2 separate regions of the Homo sapiens genome follow, and region 1 is linked to region 2. Evidence: fine-mapped expression QTL. A gene starts in region 2. The other region holds a variant in brackets. All regions are shown on one strand. Distances are between the middles of the regions. Region 1 overlaps SCLY (selenocysteine lyase). Region 2 holds the start of SCLY (selenocysteine lyase).

What was found. PIP is the estimated chance that this variant, and not a neighbour inherited with it, causes the effect. A credible set is the group of variants that fine-mapping cannot tell apart.
Region 1: its variant is the best candidate, but not a certain one, in a credible set for the expression of SCLY in nasal epithelium (TOPMed, PIP 0.56).

What each region holds. Positions count from the first base shown.
Region 1 is chr2:238,084,407-238,087,314 of GRCh38, forward strand. All of the region lies in intron 7 of SCLY (selenocysteine lyase), which reads left to right. The region is part of intron 14 of UBE2F-SCLY (UBE2F-SCLY readthrough (NMD candidate)); the gene reads left to right. Among named protein-coding and RNA genes, the nearest start is that of ESPNL, 14 kb to the right of the region's middle. The variant T/C (reference allele first, on the strand shown) is at 1,629.
Region 2 is chr2:238,059,807-238,062,714 of GRCh38, forward strand. SCLY (selenocysteine lyase) reads left to right here and starts at 1,195. Exons shown (of 12, transcript NM_016510.7): 1 at 1,195-1,337. The coding sequence starts at 1,249. All of the region lies in intron 8 of UBE2F-SCLY (UBE2F-SCLY readthrough (NMD candidate)), which reads left to right. RefSeq lists silencers at 605-814, 955-1,404.

The sequences.
Region 1 (2,908 bases), 25 kb after region 2:
ATGGTAAAACCTTATCTCTACTAAAAATATAAAAATTAGCCAGGTGTGGTGGCGCATGCCTGTAATCCCAGCTACTTGGGAAGCTGAGGCAGGAGAATTGCTTGAACCCGGGAGGCTGAGGTTGCAGTGATCCGAGATGGCACCACTGCACTTCAGTCTGGGTGACAGAACAAGACTCTGTCTCAAAAAAAAAAAAAAAAAAAAAAAGCCCAGCACGGTGGCTCACTCCTGTAATCCCAGCACTTTGGGAGGCCGAGGCGGGTGGATCACAAGGTCAGGAGATCGAGACCATCCTGGCTAATATGGTGAAACCCCATCTCTACTAAAAGTACGAAAAATTAGCCAGGCGTGGTGGTGTGTTCCTGTAATCCCAGCTACTCGGGAGGCTAAGGCAGGAGAATCATTTGAACCCGGGAGGCGGAGGTTGCACTGAGTCGAGATCGCACCACTGCATTCCAGCCTGGGTGACAGAGAGAGACTCCATCTCAAAAAAAAAAAAAAAAAAGAAACCTAGACTTCTACTTCCACTTGGCAGTGATGGTGGCATACCCCTTCTCCTGCCAGCACAACGTCAGAAAATGGCAGCCCAAACAGAAAGATTGAATAAGATCCAGGTTCTCATAAAGTAAGGCAAAAATGTCCAGGTTTCAAGTGAAAATCATTCATCATACCAAGAACTAGAAAGATTTCAAATTGAATGAACAATAATAATCAATATACGCCTGCACTAAGATGATGATGTTAAAATTATCTAACAAATATTTTACAGCAGACACAGTAAAAATGCTTCAATGAGAAATTGTGAACACCCTTGAAACAAGTGAAACAAAGTGTCAGCAAAGAGAAGGACAACATAAAAGAAGAACCAAATGGAAATTGGAAATTGTAGAACTAAGAACAGCAGCAGCCAAAATATAAAGCTCAGTGGATGGGCTTAATAGAAAAATAAGAGGACAGAGAAAGAAATCTATGAGCTGAAAGACAGAACAATAGAAATCCAGACCACAGAGAAGAAATAGAGTGGGTCTTCGGCTGGGTGCTGTGGCTCACACCTGTAATCCCAGCACTTTGGGAGGCCGAGGTGAGCGGATCACAAGGTCAGGAGATCGAGACCATCCTGGCTAACACGGTGAAACCCCATCTCTACTGAAAAAAAAAAATACACAAAAAATTAGCCGGGCTTGGTGGCACACGCCTATAGTCCCAGCTACCCGGGAGGCTGAGGCAGGAGAATCCCTTGAACCTAGGAGGCAGAGGTTGCAGTGAGCCGAGATCGTGCCACTCCAGCCTGGGCAACAGAGCGGGACTCTGTCTCAAAAAAATAAAAAGAATGGGGTTTAAAATAGAGCTTCAGGGACCTATGAGACGATAACAAATGATATAACATTCGTTTCATTGAAATCCCTGAAACAGAGAAAGATGACAGCCTGAAAAAGTGCTTGAAGAAATAATGGCTAAAAAATTTCCTGAATTTGGCAAGAGACATAAACATACAGAATCAAGAAACTGAGTAAACCCCAAATAGCATAAACGCAAAGAAATCTATGCCAGAGACATATGATTAGACTTCTAAAAATGAAAGACAGAATTCTCTAAAGCAGTCAGAGAAAGATGACACTTCACCAGTA[T/C]GGGAAAAAGAATTTGGATGACTGAATTTCTCATCAGAAACCAGAAAGACCAGAAGAAAGGGACACAATTATTTTTCTTCAAGTGCTCAGAGAAAACCGTCAAGCTAGAATCCTGTACCCAGTGAATATATCTTTCAGGAATGAAGAAGTAATCAAAACATTCTCAGATGAAGAAAAACTAAGAATTTATCACCAAATACAATAGGCTTTCCTTCTTCTTTAGAGTTTTCTGAATTACGTTTGATAGCAGAAGCAAAAATCTTAGCAATATCTGATGTGGTTCAAAATGTACATAAAGGACATATTTAAGATAATTATAGAAAGGCAAAGGTAAAGGAACATAATAGGAGATGAGGTCTGTGCTTCACTGGAACTGGCAAAGTGACAACAACACAGGCTGACACGATGGCTCACACCTATAATCCCCCTGCTTTGGGAGGCCAAGGCAGGAGGATTGCTTGAGGACAGGAGTTCCCAGCCTGGGCAACATAGCAAGATCTCATCTCTAAAAAATTTTTTTTAATTAGCCGACATGGCAGTGCGTGCCTGTAGTCCCAGCTACTCAGGAGGCTGAGGGGGAAGGATCACTCGAGCCCAGAAGTTCGAGGCTGCAGTGAGCTATGATCACACCATTGCACTCCAGCCTGGGCAACAGAGCAAGACCCTGTCTCTTTAAAAAAAAAAAAAAAAAAAAGACAATATTGGCCAGGCACGGTGGCTCACGCCTGTTATCCCAGCACTTTGGGAGGCCAAGGCCGGTGGATCACCTGAGGTCAGGAGTTTGAGACCAGCCTGACCAACATTGAGAAACCCCATCTCTACTAAAAATATAAAATGAGCCGGGTGTGGTGGCGCATGCCTATAATCCCAGCTACTTGGGAGGCTGAGGCAGGAGAATCGCTTGAACCCGGGAGGCAGAGGTTGTGGTGACCCGAGATCGCACCACTGCACGCCAGCCTGGGCAACAAGAGCAAAACTCCGTCTGAAAAAAAAAAAAAAGACAACATTAGCTGGGCGTGGTGGCTCACATTTCTAATCCTAGCACTGTGGGAGGTCAAGGCAGGTAGATTGCTTGAGGCCAGGAGTTCAAGACCAGCCTGAGCAACATGGTGAAATCCTGTTTCTACAAAAAAAAAAAAAAATGGCTGGATGTGGTGGCACGGGCCTGTAGTCTCAGCTATGTGGGAGGCTGAGATAGATGGTAGGATTGCTTGAGCCCAGGACAGACCTCTAGCAAGACTGACCAAAAAAACAGAGAAGTTATAACATCAGGAATGAAA
Region 2 (2,908 bases):
CACTACTCGTGTGAACTTGGGCAAGATGCCTTTCTGTATCTTGGATTCCTCATACATAAATACCTACCAGACTGGGTTAATCATCAAGATTAAATTAGTGAACACACGAAAAATACCTAGAACACTGCCTGGCATAGTTCAAGGCTCAATTAAAGGTAGACACTATTATGCCAAAAAAACAAAAAACAACAAAAAAAGTGACGGTAGGATGGCTTCGTGAGGATTTTTGCTCATTTCTACCACTTTCTCAACTGACTTTTCTTAATGGTTGGCGGGACACCAACCATTGGTGGATGTTTACACTTGTGACTGTCTCACAGACAACTCAACATGTCCAAAGCTAAACCCATCATCTTTCCCCCTCCCGTCTTCCCTCTTACCCAGATAAAGGCACTAACATCTTCCCAGTCACTTGTCTAATCCTTGCTTCCTTCCTGTCCCTCATGCCCCAATTCCTATTTAACGGCCTAAACAGATCTTGAATTAATCTTTCCTGCGTTTCCACGCCCACTTAGAGTCCCTCATCTCTGGCCCTATTTTCTCAATGCCCTCCCATCCTCTACTCCAGATCCCCTCAAGTCCATCCTCGATGCGTGACTCTTAACTTCACGCCATCCAGGTCCCCTATGGAGCCGCTCCGACTAACGGACGCGCAGGTCCAGCGGACCTGCTCATCACTGTCCAGGGTGGCCTGCGGGAGACCCCCGGGGCCCTGGCCCTGCTGCCGCGGCCCCGGCACTTCCCCTCGAGGGTTCGCGGGGAACAAGGCCGCGCGGCCCCGGCTCTCCCGGAGTGCACGGTCCCGCGCTCATGCGGCTAGAGGGAGGCACCCGCAGGACTGCCCAGCCGCCTCTGCTCCTCAGGTCCAGCTCGGGCCCCGCCTGCTCTTACGCCGACTAACCGGCCGCGGCCCGATGGCGGCCCTGCCGCAGACAGCAAAGGTCACGGGGCTCCCCCGGAAGTGAAAGTGCGGGGATCCGCCGGCCCAGGAGACGCGGCTTCTAGCGCCCGGTTCCCGGGAAGCTCTGTGACGCGCTAAGCCCCGCCCCCACCCGTCACCTGACCCAGCGCAGCCTCGCCTCCCCGCTGGGGGCTCGGCGGCCCTCTGAAGCGGGTGGATTGGCTGGGGTGCTTCGCTCAGCCAATCCGGACGCGCCCGGGCGTCGCGGCCCCGCCTCCTCCCCGGCGCTCTGGGCCCGTAGCGCTCCGCGGGAAGGAGGCTGGATGCCCGGCAGCAGTGGGGCGGGGATGGAGGCGGCCGTGGCGCCGGGGAGGGATGCGCCGGCACCCGCGGCGAGTCAGCCCAGCGGCTGCGGGAAACACAACTCGCCGGAGAGGTGCGCGCCTTTAGGGCAGGGCTGGGGAGCGGCCGGCGCCTGTCGCCGATTGTCCCGCGCGGGAGGACGAAGGGGGCTCCCGGCCTGTGGCCGCTCTCGCGTGGGGCGTCCCGCGCGGGGATGTCCGCGAGGTCGGCCTAAGTCAGGGATGCGAGCTTCAAGGAGGAGCGGGTGCGAGCTGTGGCCCCGCAAGGGCCCACGGAGAGGTGACTTTGGGGCCGAAACCCGAGTGACTTCCAGGGGTGAGGTTTGCAGGTTCTGGGGAAGCAGAGCCTGCCAGGAAGAGGGCACAGCAGATGCGAAGGGCAGGGGACTTGCCGGAGGTGAACCGGCAGAGCCCCTGAGCCCGGGAAGAACTTTGGGGTTCATTCGGAGCCTTATGGGGCCTCGGAAGTTGATCACGGGGCGATGCAATTTAAGTGTTTTGAAGGAGTCCTTCTGGCTGCTTCCTAGAAAGTAGGGGCGCGGGTAGGCATGGGACGAGAGGAAGCCGGGAAGCCAGTTGGGGATCTTGTAACAACCTAGGAGAGAGATGTGGTGTGCGCCCAGAAACGGATGCGTTGGTAGGAAGCTGGTGCACTGGGGCAGGTGAAAGGGAATCAAGGGTTCTCCCAGACTGCTGGCCCAGCTGCAGGAAACGGGATGGCCACCGCTGAGAAGCGCGGAGACCCGAAGCACGTGGTATCCATACTAGTTAAGTCCGAGAAGAGCAGGAGGCAGGGGTATGCATTTTCTGGTTTGTGTGTCTTCTTTCCAGACCCCTCTTTTTCCTTTTTGTGAGCTCATTCGCTACCCATGCTTAGAATATGAGGGGGTCCAGGCCTAAAGCACACACATTTGGCATTCTACCTTGGTTGGAACAAAGTGAAGGGATCTGGGAAAATATCCCCTAGGGAATCAGTGGAGCGAGATTCCCAAGATTTTTTATTTTTTGGTTATGAAGCTAACAAAGTTGAGCCTGCTCATCCAATACTGATAGCATTTTAAGGAAGCAGCAAATAATGAAGCAAAGGAATGTGTAAAGTATTAATCTGAACAAAATAGATTTGTTCAGCCCAGCAGCAGATTGAAGAGCTACAGTCGCTCAACAAACACTAGCTAGCCTAAGGTACTTTGGATGCTTATTTATAGGAAAGAAAAACAGATATAAGGGCACATGCAAAGTCAAGCCGGGCTGGGGGATTCCTAGGACTATTAATACTAGTACCAGAGTGGTAAAGGATGGCGAGTCAAACTTGTCAAAGCCTTGTACCTATTGAGTGATTTTTTTTTTTTTTTTTAATTGAGATGGAGTCTCACTCTGTCACCCAGGCTGGAGTGCAGTGGTGCAGTCTTGGCTCACTGCAACATCCACTGCCCGGGTTCAAACGATTCTCCTGTCTCAGCCTCCCAAGTAGCTGGGATTACAGGCACGTGCCACCACGTCCAGCTAATTTTATTGTATTTTTAGTAGAGATGGGGTTTCGCCGTGTTGGCCAGGCTGACCTTGAACTCCTGACCTCAGGTGATCTGCCCGCCTTGGCCTCCCAAAGTGCCGGGATTACAGGCGTGAGCCACAGGGCACAGCCTGT